Linked DNA regions of Homo sapiens: region 1 is linked to region 2. A link means that fine-mapping ties the variant in region 2 to the expression of a gene that starts in the linked region. Tissue or cell type: whole blood. Region 2 holds a variant in brackets; the other region holds the start of a gene. All regions are shown on one strand. Distances are from middle to middle.

Region 1 (8,000 bases), 31 kb after region 2:
GGGTTCAAGCGAGCACGTCTGGTTAATTTTTGTATTTTTAGTAGAGACGGGGTTTCATCATGTTGGCCAGGCTGGTCTCGAACTCCTGACCTCCAGTGATCCACCCGCCTCAGTCTCCCAAAGTGCTGGGATTACAGACGTGAGCCACTGCACCCAGCTGTTCACCACCTTCTTACTTTGTTCAGGGCCTTAGTCCAAAGCCCAAGCCCCAACTCACTTGCTACTCTCCCTCAACACCTGTTGCAGGATCCATTATTACCTGTGGCTTACAGTCAAAGAAGCCTCTCTACTGCTGTAAAGGCAAGAGGAAAACTAATGGAGGTATGTTCTTCTGCCCTAAATTAAAACACTAATTACATTTGCTCACTTAAAAAGCAATTTATAGGCCGGGTGCAGTGGCTCACGCCTGTAATCCCAGCACTTTGGGAGGCCGAGGCAGGCGGATCACAAGGTCAGGAGATCGAGATCATCCTGGCTAACACAGTGAAACCCCGTCTCTACAAAAAATACAAAAAAAGCTCTCCCTCCCCCTCCCCCTCGTCTGCGTCTCCCGCTTTCCACCGTCTCCCTCTGTTGCCGAGGCTGGACTGTACTGCAGCGATCTGGGATCGTTGCAGCCTCCCTGCCTGACTACAGGCGTGCGCCGCCACGCCTGACTGGTTTTTGTATTTTTTGGTGGAGACGGGGTTTCGCCGTGTTGGCCGGGCTGGTCTCCGCTCCTGACCTCGAGTGATCTGCCCGCCTCGGCCTCCCGAGGTGCCGGGATTCCAGACGGAGTCTCGCTCACTCAGTGCTCAATGCTGCCCAGGCTGGAGTGCAGTGGCGTGATCTCGGCTCGCTACAACCTCCACCTCCCAGCTGCCTGCCTTGGCCTCCCAAAGTGCTGAGATTGCAGCCTCTGCCCGGCTGCCACCCCGTCTAGGAATTGAGGAGCGTCTCTGCCTGGCTGCCCATCCCCTGGGATGTGGGGAAGCACCTCTGCCCGGCCGCCCCGTCTGGGATGTGAGGAGCGCCTCTGCTCGGCCGCTACTCCGTCTGGGAGGTGAGGAGCACCGCTGCCCGGCCGCCACCCCGTCTGGGAGGTGAGGAGCGCCTCTGCCCGGCCACGACCCCGTCTGGGAACTGAGGAGCGCCTCCGCCAGGCCGCCCGCATCTGGGAAGTAAGGAGCCCCTCTGCCCTGCCGCCACCCTGTCTGGGAGGTGTACCCAACAGTTCATTGAGAACGGGCCATGATGACGATGGCGGTTTTGTCGAATAGAAAACGGGGAAATGTGGGGAAAAGAAAGAGAGATCAGATTGTTACTGTGTCTGTGTAGAAAGAAGTAGACATAGGAGACTCCATTTTGTTCTGTACTAAGAAAAATTCTTCTGCCTTGGGATGCTATTAATCTATAACCTTACCCCCAACCCCGTGCTCTCTGAAACATGTGCTGTGTCCCCTCAGGGTTAAATGGATTAAGGGCGGTGCAAGATGTGCTTTGTTAAACAGATGCTTGAAGGCAGCATGCTCGTTAAGAGTCATCACCACTCCCTAATCTCAAGTACCCAGGGACACAAAACACTGAGGAAGGCCGCAGGGTCCTCTGCCTAGGAAAACCAGAGACCCTTGTTCACATGTTTATCTGCTGACCTTCTCTCCACTATTGTCCTATGACCCCGCCAAATACCCCTCTCTGAGAAACACCCAAGAATGATCAATAAATACTAAAAAAATTAAAAAAATAAAATAAAGCAAAATAAAAACACACAAAAAAAATTAGGTGGGCGTGGTGGCCGGCGCCAGTAGTCCCAGCTACTCAGGAGGCTGAGGCAGGAGAATGGCATGAACCCGGGAGGCGGAGCTTGCAGTGAGCAGAGATTGCGCCACTGCACTCCAGCCTGGGCGACAGAGCGAGACTCCGTCTCAAAAAAAAAAAAAAAGCAATTTATACACACACACACAATTGGGGTTAGGATTGGTACTATCTGATTCAAAAGTTAAACAGAATTTGATAGGCTAGTCTGAGAATATTATCCCTACAGGGAAACATTCAAAGCAATAAAGCTACTTTGAAAGGACATGTCCAAAAGTTTTCATCATCTATAACAAAATCATTGTCAAATACTACTTACATTCTTTAGAAAAAAGTCTCTTTCTTTTACCCTGTCCACCTTCTGCACCTCCTCCAATTTCTTCATTTTCTTCCTCAAACTAGAAGTTAAAATGTATATATAGAAATGTCAAATAATTGCCTTGCATTTGATATTTTAATAATGACATTTTTTTTTCCTTTTCAACAGATAGGCCAGAAAGCCAAAGGAAGCAGCAAAAAAAAAAACCACGAAACCTTAGCATTGAAGGAGCCTATGTATCTAGTCCAACTTCCAACTCATGCAAAAATGGCTTCTACAATGTTCCTAACTAATAATCCTACTGCTTCTACTTGTAAGAGTTCCAATGACCATAAGTTTTATTTTTAAACAACTAAGGTGGCCTATTACTACTGTTACTGTTAAACAGTTGATACTGAATCAAAGTCTACCTTTGTAGACTTTGTAGTAAGCAAAACTAATATTTCCTATGCATTTGCTTATACAGTGCTAAAAACGTTCCTTAAGTAAGCCCGTAACCCTATTTTATAAAAAGAAAACTGATGTTCAAAGTTAAATAACTTGCTCAGAGAGAATGGAAATTTTGAAATCCAGGCTGTCTGACTTTCAATGCATTCTTTTCCCATTACTTCACAGTAAGTACAGTTTTGTTAACAATTGAACTGTTGGCTCATAGTGCGCGCTAATAGATGTTAGTTTTGATCTCTGATGATTCTGTACGTGTTTCAGTGTCTGGCAAATACAGACCAAAATCAAGGGGAAAGGGGTCACAAAACCTACTCTTCCTTCATGTCCTTCCCCACTTTCTAAAATGATCAATCCTTAGGGCGTGAAGTCCCCGAACTCTGTCCGCTGAATTCACTAAGGCAAGCAGACCCGATCCTGAACTCTGCCTCCGCTACTGAGCCCGAAGGAGTGAAGAAAAGACAGGTTTTGGACAGAGACGGTCACTCACCGTGGGGTCTTCTTCCTCATCTGCCATCCCACTAGCACGCCAACTCACAGCGTCCTGCCGGCTGGCTCCCAGCTGGTTACACTACTTCCGCCGCCTCACTTCCGGTGACGCGCGGGGCCGTAGCTGGGCCTAGCCCTCTGCGGCCTGCGGGAGGACGGTGGTGCTTTCCGGCCTAGCGGCGGAAATGCGACAGTCTCTAAGGGAGGAGGCCGGAGCGCCTCCCTGTAATCCCGAAGGAATTGAAAACTAACAAAGAAAAGGAAATCACGGGCTAGGTCGCGAGTATCTCGTTGTCACCCTGAATTTGCTACTGCGTATTGAATCACAGCTTCTTGTTTGGGGACTGCGAAGCTATGGATCATAGGAGGGCAAGCCAGCAGTCCTTTATCAGACAAATATGCTTTTAAATCATTTTAAAGATTTGTAGTTCCACTGTTTCTAAGCACTGTGTTAATTATTGGGGATACTGTGCTTCATCACAAATTTCCAAGAGATGGTGTCCCGAGACTAAGCATTTAAAATTTTGTGAAGGTTTTTTGATTTTTTTTTTTTTTTTTTTTGAGACGAAGTCTCACTCTGTCGCCCAGGCTGAAGTGTGCAGTGGCGCGATCCCGGCCCACTGCAACCTCTGCCTCCCGGGCTCAAGTGATTCTCCTTCCTCAGCCTCCCGAGTAGCTGGGATTACAGGCGTGCGCCACCATGCCCGGCCTTATTTTTGTTTTTTTGAGACACAACCTCACTGTCCCCCGGGATGGAGTGAAGTGGCGCAATCAGGGTTCACTGCAGCCTAGACCTGCTGGGCTCAAGCCATCCTCCCACCTCAGCCTCCAAGTAGCTGGGATTACAGGCGCACACCACCAATGCCCAGCTAATTTTTGTATTTTTAGTAGAGATGGGGTTTCCCCACATTGCCCAGGCTGGTCTGGAACTCATGGCCTCAAGCGATCTGCCCCGCTCTGCCTCCCAAAGTGCTGGGATTACAAGTGTGAGCCACCGTGTCCACCGGGGAAGGCTTTTGGTCAGAACAATGGCTGGCAAAACCACAGGCATCGGAAGGCCAGAGCTAGGGATATAATATAAATGTCCCTACAGTGTAACAGATGATGCTACATAAAGAAAATCCCGTAATACACACGATTTCTGAATGTCCTGCTGAACATTCGGTGAGTGAAAACTAATTATCTGAGAGTTGAACCTATCTTTGTTAATAAACACAAAGCGGCCGGGCGCAGTGGCTCACGCCTGTAATCCCAGCACTTTGGGAGGCCGAGGTGGGCGGATCACAAAGTCAGGAGATCAAGACCATCCTGGCCAACATGATGAAACCCCGTCTCTATTAAAAGTACAAAAATTAGCTGGGCGTAGTGGCGCACGCCTGTAATCCCAGCTACTCGGGAGGCTGAGGCAGGAGAATCGCTTGAACCCGGGAGGCAGAGGTTGCAGTGAGCCGGGATTGTGCCACTGCACTCCAGCCTGGTGACAGAGCGGGACTCCACCTCAAAAAATAAAAATTAAAAAAATAAACACAAAGCATTTTCCCACACTTTTAATGTACGTTGAAGTTTCTAGGAATGTTATTACCCCAAAATTGAATAGTAATTGTATTTTGTTTGGTCTGGAATTCATTAAGAGCTGTGTACCATTTCAAGAAATAACGTCACCAAAAGCAACATCACTTGTAATAATTTGAATAGTGAATAATGAAAAAATAACTTTGATTTGAGGAATGTGAGTTAAATTATTAGGCCCAAAGAGGCATTAAAATGAGAGGCAATCACATCCTGCTTGCCCCCTTTTGAGCTATGTATTTATGTCTTAAAACCGCTTGCTATTGCCACAAGTATTAGTTATAAATTAGCCTAATTATGCCCCATCAGACACCATATCGCACACCCTATAGCTTGATAATGTTTAGCCAATTACTAATCAATGTTATTTTTGTGAACCAATGAGAACTCCTTAAAGACAACTTTGTATCAGCCCACTCCCTGTCCTCATTCTTTTCCTTTAAAAATCCACTTGTACCTGCTGCTAATCTTAGAGTGTATATTCTAGGCAACTTTATGCTGCTGAGTTGTAATCCTCAAGTTTGGCCCAAATAAACTCTCTATTTATATTAATTTTGCCTCAGCTTCTTCCTTTTAGGTCGACAATACTCACCCAAATCAGTCTGCATTCAAAGCAATTCTACATATAGGTAGAAGCATCTGAAATCTTCATTATCCCCCCCTAGTGCCATCATACCTGAGTATTTATATATTGAAACAAATGTTACTATTTTTACTTTACTTTTATATTACCTTTATGCCTGACCTCCTGGCCACTGGATCACTGGATCCTGTTAGGATATTATGTTATTTTCAAAATTATGTGAGTAGGTAGATATATTAGTTATTTATTGCTGTAACAAATTACCCCAAAACTTAGTGGCTTAAAACAAATATCACACAGTTTCTGTGGGTCAGCAATGTGGGTGCAATTTAACTGGGTGCCTGTGGCTCAAGGTCCCTCCTGTTGCAGTCGGGATGTTGGCTGGGGCTGCAGTCATACCTCAAGTGTTGATGGAGGAGAATTTGCCAGAGTCACTCACAGGTTGCTGGAGGTTTCACTTCCTCCAGGTTGTTGGACTAAGGGCCTCAGTTCTTTAATGGATGTTGCCCAGAGGTCTCCCTCAGTTCCTTGCCATGTAATCCACTCCATAGGGCAGCTCACAATGTGCCAGTTGCCTTCCTCCAGAGGACACAAGTGGGAGAACCCAAAAGACAGAAATCACAGGTTTTTTGTTACCTAATTTTGGAAGTGACATCCTATAATTTCTGCCCTATTCTATTCACTAGAAGTAAGTAAAAAAGTGCAGCTAGGGCTGGGCGCAGTGGCTCACACCTGTAATCCCAGCACTTTGGGAGGCCGAGGTGGGCGGATCAGGAGGTCAGGAGTTTGAGACCAGCCTGGCCAACATGGTGAAACCCTGTCTCTACTAAAAATACAAAAATTAGCCGGGTGTGGTGATGCACACCTGTAATCCTAGCTACTCAGGAGGCTGAGACAGGAGAATTGCTTGAACCCGGGAGGCGGAGGTTGCAGTGAGCTGAGATGGTGCCACTGCACTCCAGCCTGGCCGACAAAGCAAGACTCCATCTCAGAAAAAAAAAAAAAAAGTGCAGCCCAAGTTCAAGGAGAGGGGATTACATAAGGGCAAGAATATTGCTGGGGAGATCACTGGGGGCTTTCTGAGAGGTCACCTACCACAGTAAATTATATTATTTTTGAATTTCACTACACAATAATGGAGACACTGTATTTGTTATTAATATTTAAAGGAGATTGTTGAGCCTGATAGGTTTGAGAACTGCTTTTAGGTAGTGATCCAGTGTCCAGGAGGTCAGGCATAAAACATTCATAGTGTCTGTTATCAGTGGAGTAGATAGGTAAAATATGCTGGATGCACAGCACGGAGTACAATGCAGCAATCAGAAGCAATAGATTTAGCAACATGGACAGAACTTGAAAACAGTGCTAAGTTAAAAAAGAAACAATAAAATCTATAATATAATACCATTTATAGAAATTAAAAATACTACTTATTTTAAAGGAAAATATAAAAAAGCGTAAACATTAAACACACTAGAAAGTTGCAGTGTAGGAGAAATGGGAATAAGGATAAAAGGAATAAATTGATAAATAAAAAGTGAAGGACTTTGGAAGGGCCAATTGTAATACTATGCCATGAGCTGCGGCATGTGAATAATTCAATCCTGTGAACCTGAGATCCAAAACACAAAGTGGGGGAAAAAAAATTGCAGTGTCAGTCCAGGCGTGGTGGCTCACGCCTATAATCCCTGCACTTTGGGAGGCCGAGGCGGGCGGATCACGAGGTCAGGAGATTGAGACCATCCTGGCTAACACAGTGAAACCCTGTCTCTACTAAAAAAAATACAAAAAATTAGCCGGGCGTGGTGTCGGGCGCCTGTAGTTCCACCTACTTGGGAGGCTGAGGCAGGAGAATGGCATGAACCCGGGAGGCGGAGCTTGCAGTGAGCCGAGATCGCGCCGCTGTACTCCAGCCTGGGCAACAGAGCAAGCCTCCGTCTCAAAAAAAAAAAAAATTGCAGTGTGATAAGCAGAGCAGAAGGAAAACACAGAGTAAAAAGTCATGGTGTGCTTCTACAAGATGTTCTCTGTGGGTTGCCAGAGCCAAGTTTTTTGGGTGGGGATGCAGGAAACGAGGCTGGAATTTGCGTGTGAAAGGCCTTAAATGTTCTCTTCAGAGACTGAACTTCAAACTACAGAGTTCTTGGGAAGTCTTTAAACAGATGTGTCACATGACTTTACAGTTTTTAAAAAGATCACTTTTGCGGGGAAACTAGGATGAGAGATGATTATAATCTGAATTAAGGCAAAGAGGAAGAAGGAACTGATTTAACACAAACTTTACGAGACAATTTACAGGACTTTGTGACAATGAATGTGAAAGCTATTGACAGAAGAATGGAATGCTATTAATATAAATAGGAAAGAAAAAGGGGAAAGAAGTTGGAAGTGGAAGGAAATGAGTTTAGTCTGTGTTTGAGAGTCTGGAGATGTACTAAAACTGATGGAAATCCAGGCCAGGAATTACAGGCCCGGAAATCCACAGAAAAATTAGTACTAGAAGCCGGGTGTGGTGGCTCACGCATGTAATCCTAGCACTTTGGGAGGCCAAGGTGGGTGGACTCCCTGAGCTCAGGAGTTCGAGACCAGCCTGGGCAACATGGTGAAACCCTGTCTCTACTAAAACACACACACACAAAAAGAAAGAAAGAAAGAAAGAAAAATTAGTACTAGAGAAAATGACATGGGAGATACCATCACAAAGTGATAGTCTAGAGATTGCACGGAAACAAAGGCTGAGAGAATAGAGGCAAAGGGCACAGCCTTAGAAACAGTACATCAAGGAGACAGAGTGACAGAAGG
Region 2 (8,349 bases):
GTGGGAAAGGTGTGGTCCAGGACCGGTGACCTCGAACCGGGGCCCAGCAGTTCGCAGATCCTCACCCCGCGATGCTGGGGCCTCACCCACGACCCCAGCCCCCTCCCAGTCGGCACCCAAGCCCACTAAAGACCCCTCTCCGGGGCCGCAAACACAGTCCTCGGGGCCGCCCGGTCGGAGCCGTGTCAGGTGGTGACAGGAGGCGACGGGTGACCATGGCAACCCGAGGTGTGCAGCGGACCGACCCAGCCTCCGACTCCCGGAGTCACCCACCTGAGGGCTCCAGGGCAAGCCCGGAGGAGCGGCGGAGGAGAACGCGGCTGGGAGGCCGGCGGCCAGGGCCCCGAAGCGGCCGGCTCCGGGCTGCGGCAGGAGCACGACGGCGGCGGTCTGGGTTTGGCGTCGGTCCTCCCTCCTACCGCCCGCGCGTCAATCCATCAGTTCGTCAATCCGTCCTTCTCACGTCCGCCCCTCCCGGCCCAGCGACTCCTCAGCTCAGCCTCTTGCAGACTGCGGTTGTCAAGTGCCGGGGAGCCGAGCTCTACCCGCGAGCGGCAGCCAATCGCCGCGCTTCCCCGAGGCGCCTCAGGACCCCGCCGCGCGGGGCGGCCAGGCAGGTGCCTGAGCCGAAGGGCGAGTCGGCGGGGCGGGGCGGGGCGGGGAGGGGCGTGGAGGGGCGGGCCCAAAGCTGGGGCGGGGAGGGGCGGGGCGGACCAAAGCCTGGGCGGGGCGGACCAAAGCCTGGGCGGGGCGGGCGGGGGTCGGGCTTGGAGGGACCGGCTAGGGGCCCGGGGGAGTAGCAGAACGGGTGCGGCAATAGCGTGAGACTGGTGGCAGGGACGTAGACCCTTAGCTGGCCGGTGACCCCATGTCCCAAAATAGCACGAACAGGATTGTCGCCTGCAAATGGAGAAGACTGCGCATTAGGATTGACTCTTCATACTCCTCCCCGATAATTAATAAAGGTTAATGAAATTAATGTTGCCTTCTACCCTTCTTTCGCTGCTTTCCTAGGTCCCACTTCGTCCCAGAAAACTCCAGTAGTTTGTTTGTCCCCTTCCTGGTTTCTCATTTTGCAAAGCTGATCTGCCTTGAAAGCATTTTTCAGTTACTTAACATTTAATATGTTCAGGTTTTGTCTACTCCTGTTGGTTGTAAGCCCCTTATTCCACAAATATACGTGATGTTCAACCGAGCTTAATTAAGCATCCAGGAAGTATAACCATAAGGAAGAATACAATTACACAAACCTGTAAGAACATCATTCTCGGCCAGGCGCGGTGGCTCACGCCTGCAATTCCAGCACTTTAGGAGGCCGAGGCGGGCGGATCACCTGAGGTCAGGAGTTTGAGACCAGCCTGGCCAACATGGTGAAACCCCGTCTCTACTAAAAATACAAAAATTAGCCGGGTGTGCTGGCAAGCCTCCTGTAATCACAGCTACTTGGTAGGCTGAGGCAGGAGAATCGCTTCAACCTGGGAGACGGAGGTTGCAGTGAGCCGAGATCATGCCACTGCACTCCGGCCTGGGTGACAGAGCGAGAGACTCCGTCTCACAGAAAAAAGAACATCATCCTCACAGAGGCGAAAGTCCAGAGTGAGCTGGACCTCCCAAAAGGGGAAAATGGGGTAACAGTCTGGTAAAGAGAATAAACATCAAAAATATTTCTGGCACTCCCATGCTTATTGCAGTACTATTCACAATAGCCAAAATATAGAATCAACCTATGTCAATCAACAGACAAATGGATAAAGAAAATGTGGTACATATACACAATGCAATCTTTTTTTTTTTTTTTTTTTTTTGAGACGGAGTCTCGCTCTGTCGCCCAGGCTGGAGTGCAGTGGCGCCATCTCGACTCACTGCAAACTCCGCCTCCCGGGTTCACGCCATTCTCCTGCCTCAGCCTCCCGCGTAGCTGGGACTACAGGCGCCCGCCACCAGGTCCGGCTAATTTTTTTTTTTTTTTTTGTATTTTTATTAGAAACGGGGTTTCACCGTGTTAGCCAGGATGGTCTTGATCTCCTGACCTCGTGATCCACCCGCCTCGGCCTCCCAAAGTGCTGGGATTACAGGCGTGAGCCACCGCGCCCGGCCACACAATACAATCTTATTCACCCATTAAGAAAGAATGAAATCCTGTCATTTGCAGCAACATGGATGGGACGGGAGGACATTATGTTAAGTGAAACAAGACAAGCACAAAAAGACAAATATTGCACGTTCTCACACATATGTGGGAACTAAAAGAATTGATCTCGTGGAGGTAGTGAATAGAATGGTGGTTACCAGAGGCTAGAAAGTGTAGTGGAGGGCAAAGGGGGGATAAAGAGGTTAATGGGTACAAAAATACAGTTATGTAGCAGGAATAAATTCTAGTGCTCAATAGCATAATTGGGTGACTATAGTTAACAATAATCTATTCTATATTTCCAAACAGCTAGAAGAGAAGATTCAGAATGTTCCCAACACAAAGAAATAGTAAATGGCAGGCCAAGCGTGGTGGCTTATGCCTGTAATCTCAGCACTTTGGGAGGCCGAGGCGGGCAGATCACGAGGTCAAGAGGTCAAGAGATCGAGACCATCCTGGCCAACATGGTGAAACCCTGTCTCTACTAAAAATACAAAAATTAGCCGAGTGTGGTGGTGTGCGCCTGTAGTCCCAGCTACTCGGGAGTCTGAGGCAGGAGAATCACTTGAACCCGGGAGGCGGAGGTTGCAGTGAGCCGAGATTGGGCCACTGCACTCCAGCCTGGTGACAGAGCGAGACCGCGTCTCAAAAAAAAAGAAAAGAAATAATAAATGGGTGGGCACAGTGGCTCATGCCTGAAATCCCAGCACTTTGGGAGGCTTAGGCCAGAGGCTCACATGAGGCCATGAGTTAGAGACTAGCCTAGGCAACATAGTGAGACTCCCTCTCTACAAAAACAAGAATAAAAAATTAGACACGGTGAGACACACCTGCAGTCCTAGCTACTTGAGAGGCTGAAGTGAGAAGATAGTTTGAGCTCAAAGTCCGAGGCTACCATGAGCTATAATCACACTACTGCACTCCAGCCTGGGTGACTGAGTAAGACCCTGTGTCTTAATAATAATAATGCATTTCTAAGGTGATGGATATCCCAATTACCCAGATTTGATCATTACACATTGTATTTACTCCAGAAATATCTACAACTATTATGTAACTATAAAAATTAAAAATAAACAAAATTTAAACCATATTTCTGGGAATACAAAATCTTGTCCAGTTCAAGATAAAAGAAGCGAGAGCTTGAAGATACACATTTCTTTTTTTTCTTTTCTTTTCTTTTTTTCCTTTTTTTTTTTTTTTTTTTGAGATGGGGTCTCACTGTGTCGCCCAGGCTGGAGTGCAGTGGTGCGATCTTGGCACTCTGAACCTCCTCCTCCTGGGTTCAAGCGACTCTCCTGCATCAGCCCCCAGAGTAGCTGGGACTACAGCATACACCACCATGCCCAGCTAGTTTTTGTATTTTTAGTAGAGACAGGGTTTCACCATGTTGGTCAGGCTGGTCTCGACCTCGTGATCCGCCTGCCTGCCTTGGCCTCCCAAAGTCCTGGGGATTACAGGCATAAGCCACTGTGCCTGGCTTTCTTTTTTTTTTGAGACGGAGTCACTCTGTCACCCAGGCTGGAGTACATGGCGCAATCTCAGCTCACTGCAACCTCTGCCTCCTGGGTTCAAGCAATTCTGCCTCAGCCCCCTGAGTAGCTGAGATTACAGGCAGGTGCCACCACACTCAGCTAATTTGTGTGCCACCACACTCGGCTAATTTTTGTATTTTTAGTAGAGACGAAGTTTCACCATGTTGGCCAGGCTGGTCTCAAACCCCTGACCTCAAGTGATCCTCCCGCCATGGCCTCCCAAAGTGCTGGGATTACAGGCATGAGCTACTGCACCCAGCCGAGGAAACATTTCTAAGAAAAATACTTATGCATTCAGAGAAAACAACACACAAAAGCTGAACTACAAAATTTCAATTGCCTAGTCAGTAACTCCTGGAAGAAAGTCTTCATTATGAACCCTCTTAATGATAAGTGACAGGCAAATAAATATAAACATAATTGAATGTTACCCAGGATCTTGATATTGAAAACAAAACAAGCAAACAAACAACACATTACAGAGTGTTTAAATTGAAAAAGTAGGCAGATACGTTTTTCCTGAAAGTAGTATCTCAATTATTTTGCTAGTATAGTTCATCTAAGAAACCACTTCTAAATCTTTATGATCAAACAAGAAGTTTTGAGAACCAGTATCCTTTTTTTTTTAACTTCATTTTTTATCCCATTTCCCA[C/T]ATTTTTATCAGTTAGAACCTTTTCCCCATGGACCCATATTCTGAAACTTTAGGAATTAATTACATTTTCTTTCTTTTTTTTTTTTTTTGTTTTTTGAGACAGTATTGCTCTGTCGCCCAGGCTGGAGTGCAGTGGGGCGATCTCAGCTCACTGCAACCTCTGCCTCCCGGGTTCAAGCAATTCTCCTTTCTCAGCCTCCCGAATAGATGGGATTACAGGCCCATGCCACCACACCCAACTAATTTTTGTATTTTTAGTAGAGAATGGGTATAACCATGTTGGCCAGGTTGGTCTCGAACTCCTGACCTCAAGTGATCCATCCACCTCAGTCTCCCAAAGTGCTGGGATTACAGATGTGAGCCACCGTGCCCAGCTAGGAATTAATTACATTTATTAACAAATCGTTAATAATTAATTATTGGGTCAGAATCATAGAATTCTAGAGGGTTTTTGTTTGTTTGTTTGTTTGTTTTTTGTGACAGTGTCTCACTCTGTCGCCCAGGCTGGAGTGTAGTAGGGCAGTCATGGCTCTCTGCAGCCTAGAACTCCTGGGCTCAAGCGATCCTTCCACCTCCGCTTCCCCAGCCCAGTAGCTGAGACTACAGGTGCAAGCCACCATGCCTGGCTAATTTTTTTTTTTTTTTTTTTTAAGTAGAGACAGGGTTTTGCCTTGTTGCCCAGGCTGGTGCTAAAATGATCCTTTCCCCTTGGCCTCCCGAAGAGCTAGGATTACAGGCATGAACCATCGTGCCCAGCCCAGCATCCTTTAAATATTTAAATCTTCTACTAGCTCTAGAAAGAGTAACTAATCAGGGACAATCTGACAAACAACCGATCACCTGCTAGGGAGAGTGCTTGAAAAACAGAAGAACCACTCAGTCCAACGGGCAGGAGACACTTCTGGAAGGAACACCATGATGGCTGCCCAGGGAGAGCCCCAGGTCTAGTTCAAACTTGTATTGGTTGGTGGCGGTGGTACTGGAAAAACTACTTTGGTGAAACATCATTTGACTGGTGAATTTGAGAGGTATGTAGCCACATTTGAGAGGTATGGGTGTTGAGGTTCATCACCCAAGTGTTCCACACCAACAGAAGATGTATTAAGTTCAATAAATGGGATACAGCCGGCCAGGAGAAATGTGGTGAACAGAGATGGTTATTACATCGAACCCATAGCCCAGTGTGCCATCATAATGTTTGATGTAACACCAAGAGTTACGTACAAGAATGTGCCTAACTGGCATAGAGATTTGGTGCCAATGTGTGAAATCATCACCATGATGTTGTGTGGCAACAAAGTGGATATTAAGGACAGGTAAGTGAAGGCAAAATCTATTGTCTTCCACCGAAAGAAGAATCTTCAGTACTATGACATTACTGCCAAAACTAACTACAACTTTGAAAAGCCCTTTCTCTGGCTTGCTAGGAAGCTCATTGGAGGCCCTAACTTGGGGTTTGCTACCCTGTACTCCCCTACCTGAGGTTGTCATGGACCCAGCTTTGACAGAGCAATAAGAGCATGAGTTAGAGTTTGCTCAGACAGCTGCTCTCCTGGATGAGGATGATTACCTGTGAGAACAAAGCTGGAGCCCAGTATCAGAAGTATAGTTTTATAGACAGCTTTCCTGTGACGTCAGCAGTGCAAAGTGTGCCTCACCTTGTTATCAAGCTAAGCGGAACATGTGCTTCATCTGTGGGATGCTGAAGGAGATGAATGGGCTTCGGAGTGAATGTGGCAGTTTAAAAAATACCTGTGCCAGGCGCAGTGGCTCATGCCTGTAATCCCAACACTTTGGGAGGCCGAGGTGGGCAGATCACGAGGTCAGGAGTTTGAGACCAGCCTGACCAACATGGTGAAATCCCATCTCTATTAATAATACAAAAATTAGCCAGGCGTGGTGTTAGGCGCCTGTAATCCCAGCTACTCAGGATGCTGAGGCAGGAGAATCGCTTGAACCCGGGAGGCAGAAGTTGCAGTGAGCCGAGATTGCACCACTGCGCTCCAGTTTGGGCAACACAGAGAGACTCTGTCTCAATAATAATAACAATAATAATAATAATAATAATAATAATAATACCTTCATGGCCAGGCGCCATGGCTCACACCTGTAATCCCAGCACTTTGGGAGGCTTAGGCGGGTGGATCATTTGAGGTCAGGAGTTCGAGACCAGCTTGGCCAACGTGATGAGACCCCATCTCTACTAAAAATACAAAAATTAGCTGGGAGTGGTGGTGGGCGCCTGTAATACCAGCTACTCAGAAGGCTGAGGTAGGAGAATTGCTTGAACCTGGGAGGCAGAGATTGCAGCAGTGAGCCGAGATCGTACCACTGCACTCCAGACTGGGAGACAGAGTGAGACTCTGTCTCAAAACAAACAAACAAACAAACAAAACCTTTTTTGGGTGACCTGCATATTTAGCTGTTTTGGAACGCAGTTGATTCCTTCTTGAGTTGCAAATATAAGACTGCCACAGTTACATCAGAAGGAAGGAAGGAAGGAAGGGAGGGAGGGAGGGAGGGAGTGAGGGAGGGAGGGAGGAGGGAAGGAAGGGAAAGAAAAGGAAAGAAGGGAGGGAGGGACGGAGGGGGGAAGGAAGGGAAAGAAAAGGAAGGAAGGAAGGAGAGAAGGAAGGAAGGAAGGAAAGAAGGAAGGGAAAGAAAAGAAAGGAAGGAAGGAAGGAAAACCCCAGTGAAGTATTAGATTGGCTTTGGCATTCATTGAACACAAAATGAAATGCTTTGCTTATGTTCTCATTTAAGCCTCATAATCTCCCTTAAAACACCTATTAATTATTCCTATTTGAGTGATTAAAGAAAATAACTTGCCCAAGGTCACACAGCTAGTATGTAGCAGAGACATTCTGACTCTTAAAACTTTCTTTTTCTATTCTACCACATTAGTATGATTTCTTATCTTTGAGAGGGAGTCTCACCTAGGCTGAAGTGCAGTGGTGCAATCTCACCTCACTTCGAGCTCTCCCTCCCTGGTTCAAGCGATTGTCCTGCCTCAGCCTCCCAAGTAGCTAGGATTACAGGCGTGCACCACCACACCCAGCTAATTTTTTGTATTTTTAGTAGAGACGGGGTCTTACTGTGTTGGCCAGGCTGGTCTCAAACTCCTGACCTCAAGTGATCTGCCAGCCTCACCCTCCAAAGTGCTGGGATTAGAGGCATCAGCCGCCGTGCCCTGCCTCATTCTACATTATATTAACTGAAAATTTTATTTTAGTATTTATTTATTTATTTAAGAGACAGAGTCTCACTTTCTCACCCAGGCTAAAGTGTCACCTAGGCTGGAGTATAGTGGCATGATTATAGCTCACCACAGTCTCAAACTCCTGGGCTCAAACTATCCTCTAGCCTCAGCTTCTTGAGTAGCTGGGATTACAGGCATGAGCCACCTTGCCTGGCTAATTGTTCTAAGAAATTTTGAGCCAGATGGCCGGGCACGGTGGCTCATGCCTGTAATCCCAGCACTTTGGGAGGCCGAGGCGGGTGGATCACAAGGTCAGGAGATTGAGACCATCCTGGCTAACGTGGTGAAACCCCGTCTCTACTAAAAATACAAAAAGTTAGCTGGGCATGGTGGCAGGTGCCTGTAGTCCCAATTACTCGAGAGGCTGAGGCAGGAGAATGGCGTGAACCTGGGAGGCGGCGGAGCCTGCAGTGAGCTGAGATGGCGCCACTGCACACCAGCCTGGGCGACAGGGCGAGACTCCATCTCAAAAAAAAAAGAAATTTTGGGCCAGACACAGTGGCTCATGCCCGTAATCCCAGCACTTTGGGAGGCCAAGGTGGGAGGATCCCTTGAGCCCAGGAGTTCGAGACCAGCCTGGGCAACATAGTGGGACCCCATCTCAACTAAAAATAAAAATAAAAAAAATAGCCTGCCATGGTAACACGTTATCCCAACTACTGGAGAGACTGAGGCAGGAGGATCGCTTGAGTCTGGAAGGTCAAGGATTGCAGTGACCCATGATTGTGTCACTGCACTCCCTCTCAAAGTGCTGGGATTATAGGCTTAAGC

Evidence for each region. PIP is the estimated chance that this variant, and not a neighbour inherited with it, causes the effect.
Region 1: it holds the start of TAF13, and the variant in region 2 is fine-mapped to the expression of TAF13 in whole blood (INTERVAL, PIP above 0.99).

What each region holds. Positions count from the first base shown.
Region 1 is chr1:109,072,874-109,080,873 of GRCh38, forward strand. TAF13 (TATA-box binding protein associated factor 13) reads right to left here and starts at 3,130. Exons shown (of 4, transcript NM_005645.4): 1 at 3,048-3,130; 2 at 2,114-2,192. The coding sequence starts at 3,074. It overlaps TMEM167B-DT (TMEM167B divergent transcript), which reads right to left. Exons shown (of 2, transcript XR_947688.3): 2 at 5,419-5,773. RefSeq lists enhancers at 1,387-2,373, 2,978-3,037, 3,138-3,387.
Region 2 is chr1:109,041,589-109,049,937 of GRCh38, forward strand. WDR47 (WD repeat domain 47) reads right to left here and starts at 514. Exons shown (of 15, transcript NM_001142551.2): 1 at 274-514. It also overlaps the pseudogene RANP5. RefSeq lists silencers at 162-711, 4,538-4,817. The variant C/T (reference allele first, on the strand shown) is at 4,320.